Homo sapiens: one gene and its partner. The protein of the gene in region 1 interacts with the protein of each later gene in a biochemical or structural test. Each region holds a gene or a part of one and is shown on either strand. Other genes may lie near its edges. The genes, in order: FGG and ITGA2B.

The links.
Region 2: the proteins of FGG (region 1) and ITGA2B interact in a test that uses a peptide from one of them, tested with the Homo sapiens proteins (one study listed by BioGRID).

The regions. Positions count from the first base shown.
Region 1 is NC_000004.12:154,598,966-154,611,077, reverse strand, and holds the end of FGG (fibrinogen gamma chain isoform gamma-B precursor), read left to right. Parts: intron 1-880; coding exon 881-1,011; intron 1,012-1,314; coding exon 1,315-1,448; intron 1,449-2,427; coding exon 2,428-2,612; intron 2,613-4,095; coding exon 4,096-4,373; intron 4,374-6,011; coding exon 6,012-6,244; 3' UTR 6,245-6,723; coding exon of another isoform or gene 6,724-6,738; 3' UTR 6,739-6,907; downstream 6,908-12,112. UniProt on the Homo sapiens protein: Together with fibrinogen alpha (FGA) and fibrinogen beta (FGB), polymerizes to form an insoluble fibrin matrix. Has a major function in hemostasis as one of the primary components of blood clots.
Region 2 is NC_000017.11:44,379,650-44,388,593, forward strand, and holds part of ITGA2B (integrin alpha-IIb preproprotein), read right to left. Parts: intron 6,483-8,944; coding exon 6,361-6,482; intron 6,273-6,360; coding exon 6,175-6,272; intron 6,068-6,174; coding exon 5,902-6,067; intron 5,687-5,901; coding exon 5,637-5,686; intron 5,561-5,636; coding exon 5,515-5,560; intron 5,428-5,514; coding exon 5,299-5,427; intron 4,937-5,298; coding exon 4,889-4,936; intron 4,706-4,888; coding exon 4,662-4,705; intron 4,490-4,661; coding exon 4,436-4,489; intron 4,298-4,435; coding exon 4,245-4,297; intron 4,056-4,244; coding exon 3,844-4,055; intron 1,413-3,843; coding exon 1,230-1,412; intron 997-1,229; coding exon 951-996; intron 842-950; coding exon 737-841; intron 653-736; coding exon 597-652; intron 505-596; coding exon 353-504; intron 166-352; coding exon 40-165; intron 1-39. UniProt on the Homo sapiens protein: Integrin alpha-IIb/beta-3 is a receptor for fibronectin, fibrinogen, plasminogen, prothrombin, thrombospondin and vitronectin. It recognizes the sequence R-G-D in a wide array of ligands.

The DNA of each region.
Region 1 (12,112 bases):
GGGCCCTTGTTATTATTGTTATTATTATTACTTGCATTATTATTGTCCATCATTGAAGTTGAAGGAGGTTATTGTACAGAAATTGCCTAAGACAAGGTAGAGGGAAAACGTGGACAAATAGTTTGTCTACCCTTTTTTACTTCAAAGAAAGAACGGTTTATGCATTGTAGACAGTTTTCTATCATTTTTGGATATTTGCAAGCCACCCTGTAAGTAACTACAAAAGGAGGGTTTTTACTTCCCCCAGTCCATTCCCAAAGCTATGTAACCAGAAGCATTAAAGAAGAAAGGGGAAGTATCTGTTGTTTTATTTTACATACAATAACGTTCCAGATCATGTCCCTGTGTAAGTTATATTTTAGATTGAAGCTTATATGTATAGCCTCAGTAGATCCACAAGTGAAAGGTATACTCCTTCAGCACATGTGAATTACTGAACTGAGCTTTTCCTGCTTCTAAAGCATCAGGGGGTGTTCCTATTAACCAGTCCCGCCACTCTTGCAGGTTGCTATCTGCTGTCCCTTATGCATAAAGTAAAAAGCAAAATGTCAATGACATTTGCTTATTGACAAGGACTTTGTTATTTGTGTTGGGAGTTGAGACAATATGCCCCATTCTAAGTAAAAAGATTCAGGTCCACATTGTATTCCTGTTTTAATTGATTTTTTGATTTGTTTTTCTTTTTCAAAAAGTTTATAATTTTAATTCATGTTAATTTAGTAATATAATTTTACATTTTCCTCAAGAATGGAATAATTTATCAGAAAGCACTTCTTAAGAAAATACTTAGCAGTTTCCAAAGAAAATATAAAATTACTCTTCTGAAAGGAATACTTATTTTTGTCTTCTTATTTTTGTTATCTTATGTTTCTGTTTGTAGATATTTGCAGGAAATATATAATTCAAATAATCAAAAGATTGTTAACCTGAAAGAGAAGGTAGCCCAGCTTGAAGCACAGTGCCAGGAACCTTGCAAAGACACGGTGCAAATCCATGATATCACTGGGAAAGGTAACTGATGAAGGTTATATTGGGATTAGGTTCATCAAAGTAAGTAATGTAAAGGAGAAAGTATGTACTGGAAAGTATAGGAATAGTTTAGAAAGTGGCTACCCATTAAGTCTAAGAATTTCAGTTGTCTAGACCTTTCTTGAATAGCTAAAAAAAACAGTTTAAAAGGAATGCTGATGTGAAAAGTAAGAAAATTATTCTTGGAAAATGAATAGTTTACTACATGTTAAAAGCTATTTTTCAAGGCTGGCACAGTCTTACCTGCATTTCAAACCACAGTAAAAGTCGATTCTCCTTCTCTAGATTGTCAAGACATTGCCAATAAGGGAGCTAAACAGAGCGGGCTTTACTTTATTAAACCTCTGAAAGCTAACCAGCAATTCTTAGTCTACTGTGAAATCGATGGGTCTGGAAATGGATGGACTGTGTTTCAGAAGGTAATTTTTTCCCCACCATGTGTATTTAATAAATTCCTACATTGTTTCTGCCATATGGCAGATACTTTTCTAAGCACCTTGTGAACCGTAGCTCATTTAATCCTTGCAATAGCCCTAAGAGGAAGGTACTTCTGTTACTCCTATTTACAGAAAAGGAAACTGAGGCACACAAGGTTAAATAACTTGCCCAAGACCACATAACTAATAAGCAACAGAGTCAGCATTTGAACCTAGGCAGTATAGTTTCAGAGTTTGTGACTTGACTCTATATTGTACTGGCACTGACTTTGTAGATTCATGGTGGCACATAATCATAGTACCACAGTGACAAATAAAAAGAAGGAAACTCTTTTGTCAGGTAGGTCAAGACCTGAGGTTTCCCATCACAAGATGAGGAAGCCCAACACCACCCCCCACCACCCCACCACCATCACCACCCTTTCACACACCAGAGGATACACTTGGGCTGCTCCAAGACAAGGAACCTGTGTTGCATCTGCCACTTGCTGATACCCACTAGGAATCTTGGCTCCTTTACTTTCTGTTTACCTCCCACCACTGTTATAACTGTTTCTACAGGGGGCGCTCAGAGGGAATGAATGGTGGAAGCATTAGTTGCCAGACACCGATTGAGCAATGGGTTCCATCATAAGTGTAAGAATCAGTAATATCCAGCTAGAGTTCTGAAGTCGTCTAGGTGTCTTTTTAATATTACCACTCATTTAGAATTTATGATGTGCCAGAAACCCTCTTAAGTATTTCTCTTATATTCTCTCTCATGATCCTTGCAGCAACCCTAAGAAGTAACCATCATTTTTCCTATTTGATACATGAGGAAACTGAGGTAGCTTGGCCAAGATCACTTAGTTGGGAGTTGATAGAACCAGTGCTCTGTATTTTTGACAAAATGTTGACAGCATTCTCTTTACATGCATTGATAGTCTATTTTCTCCTTTTGCTCTTGCAAATGTGTAATTAGAGACTTGATGGCAGTGTAGATTTCAAGAAAAACTGGATTCAATATAAAGAAGGATTTGGACATCTGTCTCCTACTGGCACAACAGAATTTTGGCTGGGAAATGAGAAGATTCATTTGATAAGCACACAGTCTGCCATCCCATATGCATTAAGAGTGGAACTGGAAGACTGGAATGGCAGAACCAGGTACTGTTTTGAAATGACTTCCAACTTTTTATTGTAAAGATTGCCTGGAATGTGCACTTTCCAACTATCAATAGACAATGGCAAATGCAGCCTGACAAATGCAAACAGCACATCCAGCCACCATTTTCTCCAGGAGTCTGTTTGGTTCTTGGGCAATCCAAAAAGGTAAATTCTATTCAGGATGAATCTAAGTGTATTGGTACAATCTAATTACCCTGGAACCATTCAGAGTAATAGCTAATTACTGAACTTTTAATCAGTCCCAGGAATTGAGCATAAAATTATAATTTTATCTAGTCTAAATTACTATTTCATGAAGCAGGTATTATTATTAATCCCATTTTATAGATTAACTTGCTCAAAGTCACATTGCTGATAAGTGGTAGAGGTAGAATTCAGACTCAAGTAGTTTAACTTTAGAGCCTGTCCTCTTAACAACTATCCTGGTTGAAAAGCAAATACAGCCTCTTCAGACTTCTCAGTGCCTTGATGGCCATTTATTCTGTCAAATCATGAGCTACCCTAAAAGTAAACCAGCTAGCTCTTTTGATGATCTAGAGGCTTCTTTTTGCTTGAGATATTTGAAGGTTTTAAGCATTGTTACCTAATTAAAATGCAGAAAAATATCCAACCCTCTTGTTATGTATAAGGAATAGTGAAATATATTGTCTTCAAACACATGGACTTTTTTTTATTGCTTGGTTGGTTTTTAATCCAGAAAGTGCTATAGTCAGTAGACCTTCTTCTAGGAAAGGACCTTCCATTTCCCAGCCACTGGAGATTAGAAAATAAGCTAAATATTTTCTGGAAATTTCTGTTCATTCATTAAGGCCCATCCTTTCCCCCACTCTATAGAAGTGTTGTCCACTTGCACAATTTTTTCCAGGAAAGAATCTCTCTAACTCCTTCAGCTCACATGCTTTGGACCACACAGGGAAGACTTTGATTGTGTAATGCCCTCAGAAGCTCTCCTTCTTGCCACTACCACACTGATTTGAGGAAGAAAATCCCTTTAGCACCTAACCCTTCAGGTGCTATGAGTGGCTAATGGAACTGTACCTCCTTCAAGTTTTGTGCAATAATTAAGGGTCACTCACTGTCAGATACTTTCTGTGATCTATGATAATGTGTGTGCAACACATAACATTTCAATAAAAGTAGAAAATATGAAATTAGAGTCATCTACACATCTGGATTTGATCTTAGAATGAAACAAGCAAAAAAGCATCCAAGTGAGTGCAATTATTAGTTTTCAGAGATGCTTCAAAGGCTTCTAGGCCCATCCCGGGAAGTGTTAATGAGCTGTGGACTGGTTCACATATCTATTGCCTCTTGCCAGATTTGCAAAAAACTTCACTCAATGAGCAAATTTCAGCCTTAAGAAACAAAGTCAAAAATTCCAAGGAAGCATCCTACGAAAGAGGGAACTTCTGAGATCCCTGAGGAGGGTCAGCATGTGATGGTTGTATTTCCTTCTTCTCAGTACTGCAGACTATGCCATGTTCAAGGTGGGACCTGAAGCTGACAAGTACCGCCTAACATATGCCTACTTCGCTGGTGGGGATGCTGGAGATGCCTTTGATGGCTTTGATTTTGGCGATGATCCTAGTGACAAGTTTTTCACATCCCATAATGGCATGCAGTTCAGTACCTGGGACAATGACAATGATAAGTTTGAAGGCAACTGTGCTGAACAGGATGGATCTGGTTGGTGGATGAACAAGTGTCACGCTGGCCATCTCAATGGAGTTTATTACCAAGGTATGTTTTCCTTTCTTAGATTCCAAGTTAATGTATAGTGTATACTATTTTCATAAAAAATAATAAATAGATATGAAGAAATGAAGAATAATTTATAAAGATAGTAGGGATTTTATCATGTTCTTTATTTCAACTAAGTTCTTTGAAACTGGAAGTGGATAATACCAAGTTCATGCCTAAAATTAGCCCTTCTAAAGAAATCCACCTGCTGCAAAATATCCAGTAGTTTGGCATTATATGTGAAACTATCACCATCATAGCTGGCACTGTGGGTTGTGGGATCTCCTTTAGACATACAACATAAATGATCTGGATGGATTAACATTACTACATGGATGCTTGTTGACACATTAACCTGGCTTCCCATGAGCTTTGTGTCAGATACACGCAGTGAACAGGTGTTTGGAGGAACAGAATAAAGAGAAGGCAAGCACTGGTAAGGGCAGGGGTTTGTGAAAGCTTGAGAGAAGAGACCAGTCTGAGGACAGTAGACACTTATTTTAGGATGGGGGTTGGATGAGGAGGCTATAGTTTGCTATAAGCTTGGAATGGTTTGGAACACTGGTTTCACTCACCTACCCAGCAGTTATGTGTGGGGAAGCCTTACCGATGCTAAAGGATCCATGTTACAATAATGGCATTATTTGGAAATCCCAGTGGTATTCCATGAATAAAACCACTATGAAGATAATCCCACTCAACAGACTCTCCGTTGGAGAAGGACAGCAACACCACCCTGGGAAAGCCAAACAGTCAGACCAGACCTGTTTAGCATCAGTAGGACTTCCCTACCATATCTGCTGGGTAGATGAGTGAAACCAGTGTTCCAAACCACTCCGGGCTTGTAGCAAACCATAGTCTCCTCATCTACCAAGATGAGCAACCTTACCTCCTGATGTCCTAGCCAATCACCAACTAGGAAACTTTGCACAGTTTATTTAAAGTAACAGTTTGATTTTCACAATATTTTTAAATTGGAGAAACATAACTTATCTTTGCACTCACAAACCACATAATGAGAAGAAACTCTAAGGGAAAATGCTTGATCTGTGTGACCCGGGGCGCCATGCCAGAGCTGTAGTTCATGCCAGTGTTGTGCTCTGACAAGCCTTTTACAGAATTACATGAGATCTGCTTCCCTAGGACAAGGAGAAGGCAAATCAACAGAGGCTGCACTTTAAAATGGAGACATAAAATAACATGCCAGAACCATTTCCTAAAGCTCCTCAATCAACCAACAAAATTGTGCTTTCAAATAACCTGAGTTGACCTCATCAGGAATTTTGTGGCTCCTTCTCTTCTAACCTGCCTGAAGAAAGATGGTCCACAGCAGCTGAGTCCGGGATGGATAAGCTTAGGGACAGAGGCCAATTAGGGAACTTTGGGTTTCTAGCCCTACTAGTAGTGAATAAATTTAAAGTGTGGATGTGACTATGAGTCACAGCACAGATGTTGTTTAATAATATGTTTATTTTATAAATTGATATTTTAGGAATCTTTGGAGATATTTTCAGTTAGCAGATAATACTATAAATTTTATGTAACTGGCAATGCACTTCGTAATAGACAGCTCTTCATAGACTTGCAGAGGTAAAAAGATTCCAGAATAATGATATGTACATCTACGACTTGTTTTAGGTGGCACTTACTCAAAAGCATCTACTCCTAATGGTTATGATAATGGCATTATTTGGGCCACTTGGAAAACCCGGTGGTATTCCATGAAGAAAACCACTATGAAGATAATCCCATTCAACAGACTCACAATTGGAGAAGGACAGCAACACCACCTGGGGGGAGCCAAACAGGTCAGACCAGAGCACCCTGCGGAAACAGAATATGACTCACTTTACCCTGAGGATGATTTGTAGAAAATTAACTGCTAACTTCTATTGACCCACAAAGTTTCAGAAATTCTCTGAAAGTTTCTTCCTTTTTTCTCTTACTATATTTATTGATTTCAAGTCTTCTATTAAGGACATTTAGCCTTCAATGGAAATTAAAACTCATTTAGGACTGTATTTCCAAATTACTGATATCAGAGTTATTTAAAAATTGTTTATTTGAGGAGATAACATTTCAACTTTGTTCCTAAATATATAATAATAAAATGATTGACTTTATTTGCATTTTTATGACCACTTGTCATTTATTTTGTCTTCGTAAATTATTTTCATTATATCAAATATTTTAGTATGTACTTAATAAAATAGGAGAACATTTTAGAGTTTCAAATTCCCAGGTATTTTCCTTGTTTATTACCCCTAAATCATTCCTATTTAATTCTTCTTTTTAAATGGAGAAAATTATGTCTTTTTAATATGGTTTTTGTTTTGTTATATATTCACAGGCTGGAGACGTTTAAAAGACCGTTTCAAAAGAGATTTACTTTTTTAAAGGACTTTATCTGAACAGAGAGATATAATATTTTTCCTATTGGACAATGGACTTGCAAAGCTTCACTTCATTTTAAGAGCAAAAGACCCCATGTTGAAAACTCCATAACAGTTTTATGCTGATGATAATTTATCTACATGCATTTCAATAAACCTTTTGTTTCCTAAGACTAGATACATGGTACCTTTATTGACCATTAAAAACCACCACTTTTTGCCAATTTACCAATTACAATTGGGCAACCATCAGTAGTAATTGAGTCCTCATTTTATGCTAAATGTTATGCCTAACTCTTTGGGAGTTACAAAGGAAATAGCAATTATGGCTTTTGCCCTCTAGGAGATACAGGACAAATACAGGAAAATACAGCAACCCAAACTGACAATACTCTATACAAGAACATAATCACTAAGCAGGAGTCACAGCCACACAACCAAGATGCATAGTATCCAAAGTGCAGCTGGAGACAGGAAAGCTGCTTGGGGAGTCTCCCAGCAGAACCTTTTAGCTCCAAACACCTGTGGTGGGACCTGGTCACTCTGAAAGGACTGCAACTCAGAGCAGAGAGCTTTAGGGAGCTATTTGCCCTATCTCTCACTAGTCATGAGGTGAGCTGAATGGAACCATCTCTTCCTTCTGATTCAGGGATATTGACTTTTTAGCAGCCTGAGTTCAGGTTCATTCGCCAACTTTCTAAGGAATAGCTAAATCTACATAACTTAGCAAAAGGCTGACTGTGGGAAGTAATTGGCTAATTTTATGAGGTGGGTCTGGTTGTTCCGAAGTCCTGAGCTTTGGCTTTGCACTCTCTTTCTTTTCACACTTCTTTCTTTCTTCTTGCCTTTCCTTTTTTTTTTTGGATATAGGGTCTCACTCTGTCACCCAGTCTGTAATGCAGTGGCACAACAGTAGCTCACTGCAGCCAGCCTTGAACTCCTGGGCTCAAGTGATCCTCCTTCCTCAGCCTCCCGAGTAGCTGTGACTACAGGAGTGCACCATCACACCTGCCTAATTTTTCTTTAATTTTTATTTTTGTAGAGAAAGAGTCTCACTGTGTTGCCCAGGCTGGTCTCAAATGCCTGGCCTCAAGGGATCCTCCTGCCTCGGCCTCCAAAAGTGCTGGGATTACAGGCATGAGCTACCATGCCAGGCCCACAATTTCCTTCTTAATCTTTTCACTTTCTTGTTATCAGGAGTGCTGAATTTAAGATATCCTATTGAAGAGATAAAAACAGTAAGTCAGCTTCTAGATATACAACCGAAGACGTGGGAGGCTTTGGAAAATAGAAACATTGATTCATTGTTTGCAGCCTTCATATATACATGTATGCATGAAGCACTTATTCAATTAACATTTATTGAATGCCTTCCTTGTGGTAGCCATTGTGTTGGATTTGGGGATATAGTACATGGTATGCTTAGTGTTCTCCACTCTCCCAAACCTGTTCTACTCCATCCAGTCCTCAAATGCAAAAAAAACAGTGACTCATCCTCCAATCTTCCTCCCCATATCCAATTTCTACCTCCCTATATCCAATTACTCATCAAGCCTGCTGAATTCACCTCCTATATATTTATCATATTCACTTTTTTCCTGTATACCGATTGTCACCTTTGTAGTTGAGATACATCTCTTGCCAGGATAAGGGCAATCACCCACTTCCTGTTCCCTTTCTTACATCCAGCCTCTCCTGCTACCATCTCATCCTCCTCCAAACCACTTCTAAAGCCAGAATGCATACAGTTTACCCTTTGTGAACCTATAAAATCCTTTGTGTGAGCAATCTGGTCATAGCTACAAAGAGATATACAATATTCATGAGTTTTCATGCAATATCACTCTAGTGATTTATCCCAAGAAAATCATTTTTAAAAAAGAAAATAGTTATATACAGAAATAAAAATATAGATGTAAATTTCATATTAGTAGGAAATTAAGAAAATATTTAACAGTGGAAGAATGGACAAGCAAGATAGCTTATTAGTAAATAAAATAGAATATAAGGATTATATAAGCACAATAGCTTTTTATGAATATGGAAATATTTACAAAATAAGTGAAATTTTAAGATGTAAGAATAATTCTAAAATAAAAATTATGTAAAGTTGTATATACATATACTTCATGAACAAAATATAATCTTGACATATATCCTTATTTGTACATACTCGTTCTCCTGTCAACCAATCCACAATATATAATTACATGAAAATTCTAAAACATGGCTGGACATGATGGCTCACACTTGTAATCTCAGCACTTGGGAGGCCAAGGTGGGAAGATCACTTGAGCCCAGGAGTTTGAGACCAGCCTGGGCGAAATGGTAAAACCGTCTCCATAAAAAATACCAAAAAATGTTAGCCAGGCATGGTGGTGCACACCCGTAGTCATAGCTACCAGGAAAACTGAGGTGGGAGGATCACTTGAGCCTGGGGAATTGAGCCTGCAGTGAGCCGTGATTGTGCTGCTGCACTCCAACCTGGGCAACAGAGTGAGTGAGACCTTGTCTCAAAAACAAAAAAATACTAAAACACAAAATAAATATAAGGAAGTCTAAAGATTCCTGATGTCTCCCATTATCACTTGTCCAATTCTTCTTCTGAAATATCAAATATAGCATTCTTTCAAAAACATTTAGGAGTCTCCTGATTTTTGTAGGTATCCTGAGTACAAGCTTGATCTGCATGTTGAATAATCCAGCATTCATTGGTAGAAAGAGGCTACTAACTTTTTCTTTAGATATCTCTGCATTGTTTGGCTTGTTATAACGAGTACATATTAATTTTGTGGTTCACTTTGCAACCCAGTGAGGCAGAGACAAAAAAAAGAATTTCAAAATTCTACTTGTTTAGTTATTAATATCCAGCGGTGAGCACTGAAAGCCTACAGTAAGAACTAAAGCATGAAAAACCCTTCTAGACTCAGTTGCATCATGTCTCCTCAAATAAAGTGGCAATTGAAAGGGTTATGTTGAGAAATCAACCAAAAAAACCTTTTAAGTGAAAAAAAGAGTTTGGGGTCTCCCAGAGACAGATTATATATTTTTTTCACAGCTCAAATCACAGGTGACTATTGCTAAGCCCTCCTCTTTATTTTCCCGGACACAGAAAAACTCTAGTCACTGAAAAGTAGTGAGGCGAAGTGCAAAGCAGATGTGTAGTGTCTTACACCGTGACAAACCTATGGAGGGAAGCATCTACAAAGGAAGAGATCAGGTGTAGTGATACTGTGACTTTAAACCATACAACTACAGAGCAGAGTTCTTGAATCAACAGAGAGGGTGATGACTTCCTGACCAAATACCAAGATTTTAAAATATACCTGTGAAGATTCTGTTTCATACCTGTGGGTGGGTTGAAAGTGAGCGAGAAATGAAAAAATAAATGTATGGACAGCATAGTTGAAATCTTTCCAAGATCCAAAATTCTTTTGCTCTGATTCTAATTAGTATAAACTAGCCAAGGTATTTATAATAGATACCTTCAGTTTATTCAGATGAAAAGGGTGAAAACAAAATACACATTTAACCCTGTGGGAAATATGTGTACCCGTTGATTTCTTATCACTTTGATGTAGCTCAAAGAGGGAGAAAAAGTTAAAGATAGTAAGATGAGTCAAAGTGGATGGAAAATAATAAGCTGCTTTGGGAGGCCGAGGCGGGCAGATCATGAAGTCAAGAGATCGAGACCATCCTGGCCAACATGGTGAAACCCCGTCTCTACTAAAAATACCAAAAAATTAGCCGGGCGTGGTGGTGCACACCTGTAGTCCCAGCTACTTGGGAGGCTGAGGCAAGAGAATCACTTGAACCCAGGAGGCGAAGGTTGCAGTGAGCCAAGATCACACTCCAGCCTGGGCAACAGAGGGACACTCCATCTCAAAATAAATAAATAAATAAGTTGGTGAAAGAGACCAAGAGTGTGGGAAAGACTACGTTTCATTTATCTCTTTGTGTTTGTGCATGTGTGTGTGTGTGTGTGTGTGCGTGTATGCGTGCAGAGACAGAAGTTGTTACCACACTCCCAGTACATCATTCTCATTGCTCTGTTGATTGATTGATTCTCATTTATTCACATTTCCTTTTTGTTCCATCTTCCCCTTAATAAACAATCACCTTAATAGGTTTGATATTTGTTTCTTTATTTGTATGCATTCTTATAAATCATGGTTTTTTTGTGTGTGTATGTATTTTTAAATTATGCAAATGACATTATGCTATAAGTTAGTGTTACTTAGAATACTGGTCCCGAAACTTCTGTTACTTTTCTGCACTAAGTACAAAAATTGAGAATTAGCAGGGAGAAACTTTTTCCTATGTTATATTTGTTCTGATATACTTACTGAGATAGAATTTTATATCTTTCAAATCTCATAATAAAAATATGGGCCTATATTTTGAATATCATTGCTTTTTAACATTTCATTTTTTTAGTAATTATTTTTATTGAATTCTATAAAAACCTGGTCTGTGGCTGATTAGAATTTTAATAAAACTAGTCCTTCACCACAAATCCTTTGACAATCACTGCTGAAGTCTTCATCATACTTACTACTTTTTTATTTCAGCATTGTGTTTTTAAGATCTATCCACACATGAATTTGTGGTTTGAAAGCAGAATGAAAAGGAAAAAAAAAAGATCTATCTACAATCTGAGTATTTCATAATTTTCCTTGATTTCCTTTTGAACCCAAGGGTTATGAAGTGAACACTTTTTGGTTCTAAAGTTTATGAGTTTTTCAACGGTCTATTTTTAATTATTATCTAAATTTATTGCATTATAATCAGAGAACATAGTTTTGATGATATTGATTCTCAGGAGAGAGATTTCACAAATTATTTTGGAACAAATGTTTGTTACAGAATTAACTCACCCCATAAAAGTGTACATCAGTTGTAATTATTCTCCACTAATGATCTATATACTGGAAGCCTGTTAATATTTTTTGCTTTGAGAAGGAAAAAAACACCAGGCATGGTGGCTCACACTTATGATCCCAGCACTTTGGGAGGCCAAGGCAGGAGGATCACTTGAGCCCAGGAGTTCCAGATCATTCTGGGCAACATTGAGAAACCCCATCTATACAGAAAAATTCAAAAATTAGCTGGGAATGGTGTGGTGCCGGCTACTCAGGAGGCTGAAGTGGGAAGATCATTTGAGCCCAGGAAGCCAAGGCTGCTGTGAGCCGTGATTGCACCACTGCACTCCAGCCTAAGCAACAGCAGCAAACCCTGCCTCAAAATAAAAAAAATTAAAAAAAAAATTAAAAAAAAAGAAGGGGACGGGCGTGATGGCTCACGTCTGTAATCCCAGTGCTTTGGGAGGCTAAGGAGGGTGGATCA
Region 2 (8,944 bases), on another chromosome or scaffold:
GGTCCTGCACCTCCCTGGCCTGTCCCTGCCTGTCCCTACCTGCTCCTGCACATGGGTGTCTCCATGCAGCACGACAGCAGGGGCCATTCCAGCCTCCGTGGGCGGTAGGGACACATTGAGGCTGAGCACAATGGGGCTCAGCTTGTCCCGGAAGTCTGCCTCATCCTAGGACAGGGGCAAGAGTCAGGCCATCTTGCTACCATACACATCCCACCTTCTCCTGGCCAGTAGGCACCGTGTCCTGACCACCCCCGGACTCACAGCACCCAGCTCAGTGCCCCAGGGCTAGATGAACAAGTCCAGTGGGTAAGTTCTACTCTCCCAGCCCTGCCAATCCCCTGCCTGGGCGTACTCGAAGGAAGGCCATGGTGGTGTGGCAGATGGGGCTGTGCTTTCCGCCCAGATCCAGGTTCAGGGTGGTGCCTGCCTGTTGAGAGCCCAGCAGCAGCACCCGCCGGCCCTGGCGGGGCTTCTGCCGGTCCAGCTGCAGCTCGGCATTTAGGGCTGGCAGGGCAAGCAGAAGAGTCAGGACCTCCCTGGCCAGCCTCCGGGGGAGTCCAAGCCCACCTCCCTCCTGCCCCCTTCATGCCACTCACATAGCTTCTGAGGAATGTTGTGCCCAGTGGCTCCAACACACATCTGGATGTTGAAGCTGCAAAGACGTAAGTGGGGCTCAGGGGTTGGAGCCTTTCTGAGGTCCCAGATCCTTTAAGGCCCATGCCCTCTGCCTCCTCACCAGCTCACGGGTGTCTTGGTCTGAGGTAGGACACAGCTCTTCACAGCAGGATTCAGTGAATCTTGCACCAGTAGCTGGACAGAGGCCTTCACCACTGGCTGAGCTCTGATGGGATAGGGTGATGGGGTAGGCTTGCCATTGTGGCTCCTCCTGGCCTGGCCTCCTCTTGATGGCACAGGACCTTCCCCATCCCGCCCCTGGAGCCAGTGCTCACCTGTACACAGCCACCTGGTTGGCCCCGTAAGCTCCCACGATCAGGTCTATAGACATCGAGGAATGGGTCAGAATTGGCGATTAGGGCATGGGATCCTCATCTCATCTTCCCAGGGGTTCCCCACACCACCTCCCCCACTGGAGGTTTCACCCAGCCCCTCTGGCAGTCCATAGTGGGACACCAGGCCAGGCATGAGCCCCTGGCCGTGTCTCTTGGCACTTCCAGCGAATGTCCAAGGGCCTTTCTTGGGCATTTCTAGCTGGAGGCAGTCCAGGGCACCTGGGTATCCGTTGTCATCGATGTCTACGGCACCTCGAAGGGAGAAGCCAAAGGCAGAGCCTGTGGGGAAGGGGCTGTCCAGGACCTGGGAGGGACGTGACCTCAGCCCCTCACTCTGACCCAGGAACACCAGCACTTGGCCCCGGCCACTGGGACCCCCGTAGGGGGCAGCCACTGCAATGTCTGGAAGGAGTAACAGAAAGGAAGTGGCTGATTGTTATTCAGCCTCCCTAGATGACTGTAAAACTTTCCTGAGCTTCTCTGGGAACATCCCAGGAGACTAGGAAAGGGGTGCAAAGTGTGGGTGAAGGAGGCACTGCCCTACCCTCCAGGAGTTAACAATCAGGTGGGAGAGGGACCTGCCAAGTAGGATTGTTATAAAAACAGTGACAACTCTCACTGTCTATTGAGGAAAATATATCCTGAAAATTAAGCATCATTATTCCCTTTTCTAAATTTTTTTTTTTTTGAGATGGAGTCTCGCTCTGTTGTCCTGGCTGGAGTGCAGTGGTGCGATCTCGGCTCACTGCAACCTCTGCCTCCCCCGTTAAAGTGATTCTTGTGCCTCAGCCTCTTCAGTAGCTGGGATTACAGGCGCCTACCACCATGCCCGGCTAATTTTTGTATTTTCAGTAGAGACGGGGTTTCACCACATTGGCCAGGCTGATCTCGAACTCCTGACCTCAAGTGATCTGCCCACCTTGGGCTCCCAAAGTGCTGGGATTACAGGTGTGAGCCACCGTGCCCAAGCCCCTTTTAAAATTTTTTTATTTTTAAGACAGTCTTGCACTGTCATTCAGGCTGAAGTGCAGTGGTGCAACCATGGCTTACTGCAGCCTCAACCTTCTGGACTAAAGCAATCCTCCCACCTCAGCTTCCCAAGCAGTTGAGACTATAGCCACCATGCCCAGCTAATTTTTAAAAATTTTTATGGAGACGAGATCTCCCTATGTTGGCCAGGCTGGTGTCAAACTCCTAGGCTCCAGTGATCCTCCTGCCTCGGCCTCCCAAAGTGCTGGGATTCCAGGTGTGAGCCACCGTGCCTGGCCATCTAGCATCTATTTCTAGCCTTCTCCATTCCATCAAACTCCCAGACCCCCCACACTTCCTTCAGCAGGTGACGTAATCTCTTACTTCAGGAAGAGAGGCAGCCCACTGTTATGCTATAATCCCACACCAACTTTCTTTTCCCTTTCCCCATTTGACCCTGGAAGAGGTTTCCTTCCTTCACCCTGACACTGGGCCAGTCACCCTCCCACCCCCTGAGGCATCACAGGGACTCTCTGCTGGCTCATCCCCCCATTTCCCCACAACATCATTTTCAACCTACTACATGTTCTTCCACATTGAAATAATCTTCCCTTGACCCTCATCTCTTTTCTGTGATCACCTTTTCTCTTTTTCCTCTTATAGTCAAACATGTTTTTTTTTTTCCTTTCTATTCCTCAAATTCCTTTTTACCACAAACCTGTTGAAAGAGCTGTCTACATTAGCTGCATCCAATTTTTCATCTCCATTCATACCTTACCCCATTGCATTCTGGCTTCTGACCCTATCTTGGCCTGAATCAATTTATGTCACTGTCACCAATAACCTCCCCTTCTTTTTTCTTTCTTCCTTTCTTTCTCTATTTTTTTTTTTATTTTGTTGAGATGGAGTCTTGCTCTGTCACCCAGGCTGGAGTGCAGTAGTGGCGCAAGCTCAGCTCAGTGCAACCTCCACTTCCCGGGTTCAAGAGATTCTCCTGCTTCAATTTCCCAAGTAGCTGGGATTACAGGTATGAGCCACCATGCCTGGCACCCTCTTCTTGCTAAAGCCCATGAATATTTCTCCAGCCCCACCTAATTGTATCTTGCAGCAGCAGCAGGAGCTGCAGCGCCCACTTCCTCCTGTGCATGCTCTTTAACGCATGCTCTTCCTTGAGTCCCGGGCCATCAGACCCCCTGGGTTCCCTCCTCCCTCTCTGGACACTCCTCTGTCTCCTTCTCAGACTTACCTCCTGTAGGAGTCACCTAAATGCTTTTGCTCCCTAGGGCTCTATCCTGGGCCTCTTATTTCACAGGTCCCGGGACCTCATCCACTTTCCCCAAACCCCTGTCTCCCATTCAGATCTCTCTTGTGGAAGCGGGGAGAGCCACTCCCAACTGTTCTTTGGATATTTCCGCCTAAAGCACCCAAGCCCTTCAAGCTCAACAGGTCCAGAGCTGAACTGCTGATCTCCCGCCTCTCCCCAGCACCTGCTGCACGGCCTGAGTTCCAGGCAGTGGAGGCCATCACAGGCACCCAACTCCAACCTCTCCCCTGGCCCCACATCCAGTCTCCCACCAAGTCCTAATAATCCGAGTCCTAAATATCTGTGAAGTCACTCCCATCTCTAACTCCACTGCCAAAATCCACATCCAGGTGGTCATTGTCTCTTGCTTGGATTAAGGCAAACACTTCCTAATTAGTCTTCAACTCTCCCATCTGCTCTCCACTCAGCACCCCATGTGTCTAAGCCACATACTTATATGCTTAAAACCCATCCTGGTTCTGGCTGCCCTCAGGCCAACTCCATGCTTTTTGAGTGGCTGTTAACCCCTCTGCAGCAAGTAGGGCTCCTCTCTTCCCTCACCATTGTAGCCATCCCGGTCGAGGTCGCCCAGGGGTGCGATGGCAGAGCCGAATCGCCCATAGAGCTGTGTGCCAGTCAGCAGGAGGCTGGGGGCACCCAGCGCGTGGGGGCCTCGCGGCTGCAGGAACAAATACACACGCCCCACTTCGGCCAGTTTTCGGTCTGCCCGGCTCTCCATATACAGTGGAGCGCCCACCAGCAGATCATGCCTCCTGTGGGCCAGATGAGTGGTTACATGGGACTGGACCAGGGGTATATTGGGGCTAGGGCCAAATCTCCTCGACCCTTGCTCTCCTGTTCCTCCAGTGGATACGTGAGACTAGGGCTAGGAAAGGGAGACAGAGGGCAGCTCTGGTAATTTGGGACCCAACTGGGTAGGGGTGGGGCATGTCCCTCCTCACCCATCCCCGTTGACGTCAGTGACAGCCACTGAATGCCCAAAATACGACGCCATCTGCAAGATGAGGAGCACCATCATTCACGCCGCTGGACAAGCATCCTCTTTAAGAAATGGGCCCTCACCTCCCATGAAATATTCTGAAGTCTCAGTTCCCCCTCCACCCAGCCACGCCCACTGGGACCTGGCCCCCACCTGCTCTCCGCGCAGCCGATGCAGCCTCTGGTAGTAGGAATCCAAAATTTCCACCTGCACGGACAGCGCAGGCGAGAGCATCATTCTTGTACCCAAAGCAACCTCCCACTCCAGGTGAGAAAGGGTGGTTTGGTGGAGGCGGGGCGGGGGTGGGGGGCGCTCAGGAGTTGTCAGCCTGAGAACTGGGATAAGGGGCTTCGGGAGGCCCAGTGGTGGGGGCACTTACCGCTCCCAGGGTCCAGCTCCAAGTGGGGGCACCGACGACATATTCTGGCGATAGGGAGAGCCAGGCTCAGGGAATGAGAGCCTTAGAACCTACCCACTTCCCGCTCCCCGTTCTGCACCCAGGGAAAAATGTGTGTGCAGGAAGATTTCCCTACATAGGGGAGATTTCAGGAAGGCGCTCCTCCCCGGGCTGGGCTACCCAACTCCCGCCCTAAGTGGATTTCTTGCCTGTAGTGTTGAGATCCCCGTCGAACTCGCCCACGGCCACCGAGTACCCTGAGGACAAGGGCGCAAATTAGTCTTTTCCAGGGGAGGAAGCACAGAGGGGACGGAGGGCAAAGAAGGAGGAGATTAAGGCCACTCAGCCCCAGCCCTGCATTGTGCAGATGGAAAAACGGAGGCCTTCGAGGGGCCAAGCCCTGCCCCAGGCTGCGCTACGAGTCCGCAGTGGAAGGGAGCGGTGGGCGCATGGGAGGTGGGCGGTCTGCGGGGAAGCCGCAGGAGCGGAGGGCGGGAGCGGCTTAGGCGGTGGGTTGGCCGGCAGGGGTGGCCATGGAGGCTCCCACAGGGGCAGGACCTGACCGTCTGCGGTGGGCGGTGACCCTCGGGGTGCTGGAAGTCTGGAATGGCGGTGTTACCCCAGTAGCCGTCGAAGTACTCTGGGTTGCTGGAGTCAAAGGAGAGGCTCTGGGAGGACACGTGCCACAAAAGGATGCCTGGGCGGTAACTCGAGAAAATATCCGCAACTGGAGCCTGGGCCAGGAGACCTAGGGCGGGAGGGACAGCGGGTGTGAAGCCCAAAGCGGTCTCCTTGGGCCGCGAGAAGGGAGGGAGGTGTACGGATGGGCACGTACCTAAGAAATAATAGCCGCCAGGAGCCCCAAGCACCAGCTCTCCGGCCTGGAAGGGAAGTCCTGAGGGTGAGAGGGGGCCCTGTTTGGGAGCCGCCCCCACTGCGCTTTTGCTCCCTACTCGCCTGAGTGACCACGGAGCTGAAGCCCGCTTCACAGTAACGCTTGTCCCAGCCTGCAGGAGACAAGGAGGAGGGGTCAGCGCAGGGGTGAAGGGAGGCGCGCGCGAGCCCGGAGGAGGGCTGGGGGACAGGGGCGGGGCCTTGAGTCGGCGGGGCCCTGGGGCGAGGCCAGATCCAAAGCAAGGGCTGCGGCGCTGGGGGCGGGATCCGATGGGGGCGGGGCCAAGCCGTCGCGAGTGGGCGGGGCCAGGTCGTAGCTGGCGCTTACTAAAATCATTTTCCACGTAAATGCGGCTCAGGGTGTTCCCGCGACAGGGGGAGTACTCGGCGCGGCGGCCGCTCTCTGGCTGAGCCAAAAAGCAGCTACCTACGGGCGTCTTCTCAGCCTCCTCAGTCTTTTCTAGGACGTTCCAGTGCTGCCAGGGGGCGCAGGCCTGGAGAAAGGCCACAGGAGTGGGGACGGGCGCGAGACTTGGGCTCCTCCTGGCCCCAGGTGTCCCTGCCCCCGATTGTTCCCTGTGCCCTGTACCGCGGGGCCCACCACAATGACGTCGCTCCAGCTGACGACCGACGCCCCCAGTCCTTGGCGGGCCTTGAAGGTTTGTAAAGTTTGGGAGCCTACATTTCGGGTCTCATCACCTGGAAGGCACAAGAAGGGGTGGGGCGCTGAAGCCCGGCAGTCCACGTCCCTCTGACCCCAACCTTGCTCTCCTTGCCTGGGACTCACGGAGGTCAAAGAGCAGCGAGGGGCACTGGCCGCCCTCGGCCCTCCAGGGGCACAGGAACACGCCGCCCGTCTCCTCCTGGCTGGGGCCCAGGGTCCGCGGGGCGCCCACCACGATGGCCACTCTGCATAGGAAAGCTGGGTGAGCGCCGCGCAGATTCCAGCGTATCCCAGGCCCTGGCGCCGGCGCTGGGAGCACTGCCCGGAAGGCCATGTGGCATGGGGGCACTGGACCATCTTTCCTCAATGACACCTCACAGACCACCGTGATGTACTTCTTCATCTTATGGACAGTGAAACCGACTCTCAGCGAGGGCAATCACGTGGCTAAAGTAACCCAGTGAGTTGAGAGTAGAGCTGGGACTATAACCATTTGGTTTGATTTGAACACCAGGGGTTTGAGATCTTTGCTGAAAAAGACCTAAACTCTGTACAACACCTCCATCCTTCCACCCGCAACAAGAACCAGCGGTTCACATGCTCCCTGGAATGCCTGCCTAGACTGTTACCAGATCCCCTCTTGAGAGCTGGTTTTAATGAGGGAAGGTAGCGGGTACCTCTAAAGTGGGGCTGGAGTGTGTGTGCTGATAGGAGGACCCTAGCAGATCTAGGTTTAAATCACAATTCTGCCATATGTGAAATAGGAATACCAATTTCATAACCAATGACTGGTTTTCACAACCAGTCAATGCTGTCAGGAGTAAATGTAATAAATACGAGTAACGGTTAGCATGGTCCCAGCCAAATACATAACAAACGCTCTTGAAACAATGCTATAATTTTAAAAAATAATTTTGTTGTTTTGAGACAGGGTCTCATTCTGTTGCCCAGCTGGAGTGCAGCAGCATGATCACAGCTCACTGTAGCCTTGATCTCCAGGGCTCAAGCAATCCTCTCCCCTCAGCCACCCTAGTAGCTGGGACTGCGGGTGTGCAACACCATGCCTGGCTAATTAAAAAAAATTTTTTTATAGGCTGGGCATGGTGGCTCACACCTGTAATCCCAGCACTTTGGGAGGCCAAGGGATTACAGGCGTGAGCCTCTGTGTCTGGCCCATAATATTTTTTTAGCCTGCAGGATGTTTAAGTAGTGCCAATGGGATCACTACTTATAGGAGGGGAAATCAGCAGGAGTGGGCACAGGAAGGAGTTGAGCTGATTCAGGCCCAATGACAGCATTCGCCAACACCCCACGAGCTTTGGAACTAGAATGACCCTTCAAAATTGTCAGAGTTGGCCGGGTGTGGTGGCTCACGCCTGTAATCCCAGTACTTTGGGAGGCCGAGGCAGGCTGATCACCTGAGGTCAGGAGTTTGAGACCAGCCTGGCCAACATAGTGAAACCCTGTCTCTACTAAAAATACAAAAATTAGCCGGGCATGGTGGCATGCACCTGTAATCCCAGCTACTCGGGAGGCTGAGACAGGAGAATCGTTTGAACCCAGGAGGCAGAGGTTGCAGTGAGCCGAGATCACCCCATTGCACTCCAGCCTGGGCAACGAGAGCGAAACTCCATCTCAAAAAAAAAGAAGAAAAAAAGTCTGGGCATGGTGGCTGAAGCCTGTAATCCCAGCACTTTGGGAGGCCAAGGCGGGTGGATCACCTGAAGTTGGGAGTTCGAGACCACCCTGACCAACATGGAGAAACCTCGTCTCTACTAAAAATACAAAATTAGCCGGGTGTGGTGGCACATGCCTGTAATCCCAGCTACGCGGGAGGCTGTGGCAGGAGAATCGCTTGAACCCGGGAGGCAGAAGTTGCGGTGAGCCAGTGATTGTGCCATTGCACTCCAGCCTGGGCAACAAGAGCGAAACCCCATCTCAAAAAAAAAAAAAAAAAAAAAAAAAAAAGAAGAAGAAGAAAAAAAGAATTGTCAGAGTTGATGAAAGAGGGCTGGACCCTTATCAAATGCCTCCCCCACACCTGCCTCCACTCTCCCCACTCACCCACTTCTCATTGATCAGACACTGGATGTGGGCCATCTTGGGAGGGGACTTGGAGTGAACTGGCTCTCTTCAGCAGAGGAAATCCCCTAAGTGGCTGACACTTGAAGGCTATCTGCCATTGCCACCCATTGCCACTCCCTGAAGCTGGTGGGCACAGTGTCTCTCACAATAGTAGCTCAGGGTACACGCTATGAAGAGGAGGAGCCAAGACTCTAATCTTGGCACTCTTGATTCTGAAGCCTGATCAATACTAATCATTAATGACCTATTGCTTCTTTTCAAATATTTATAATGTTGATGGAGATGAGGGAAATGGAACAGAAATGCAAGGTGCGGGAGGGTAGACAACTTTAGTTCTGCAAATCAATTTAGGACATGTGCTCCTCTCCACATTTCCTTTCTTTTTTTTTTTTTTTTTTTTTTGAGACAGAGTTTCGCTCTCGTTGCCCAGGCTGGAGTGCAATGGCATGATCTCGGCTCACCACAACCTCTGCCTCTCAGGTTCAAACGATTCTCCTGCCTCAGCCTCCCGAGTAGCTGGGATTACAAGCATGCGGCACCACGCCCGGCTAATTTTTTTTTTTTTGAGACGGAGTGTCACTCTGTCACCCAGGCTGGAGTGCAGTGGCATGATCTCAGCTCA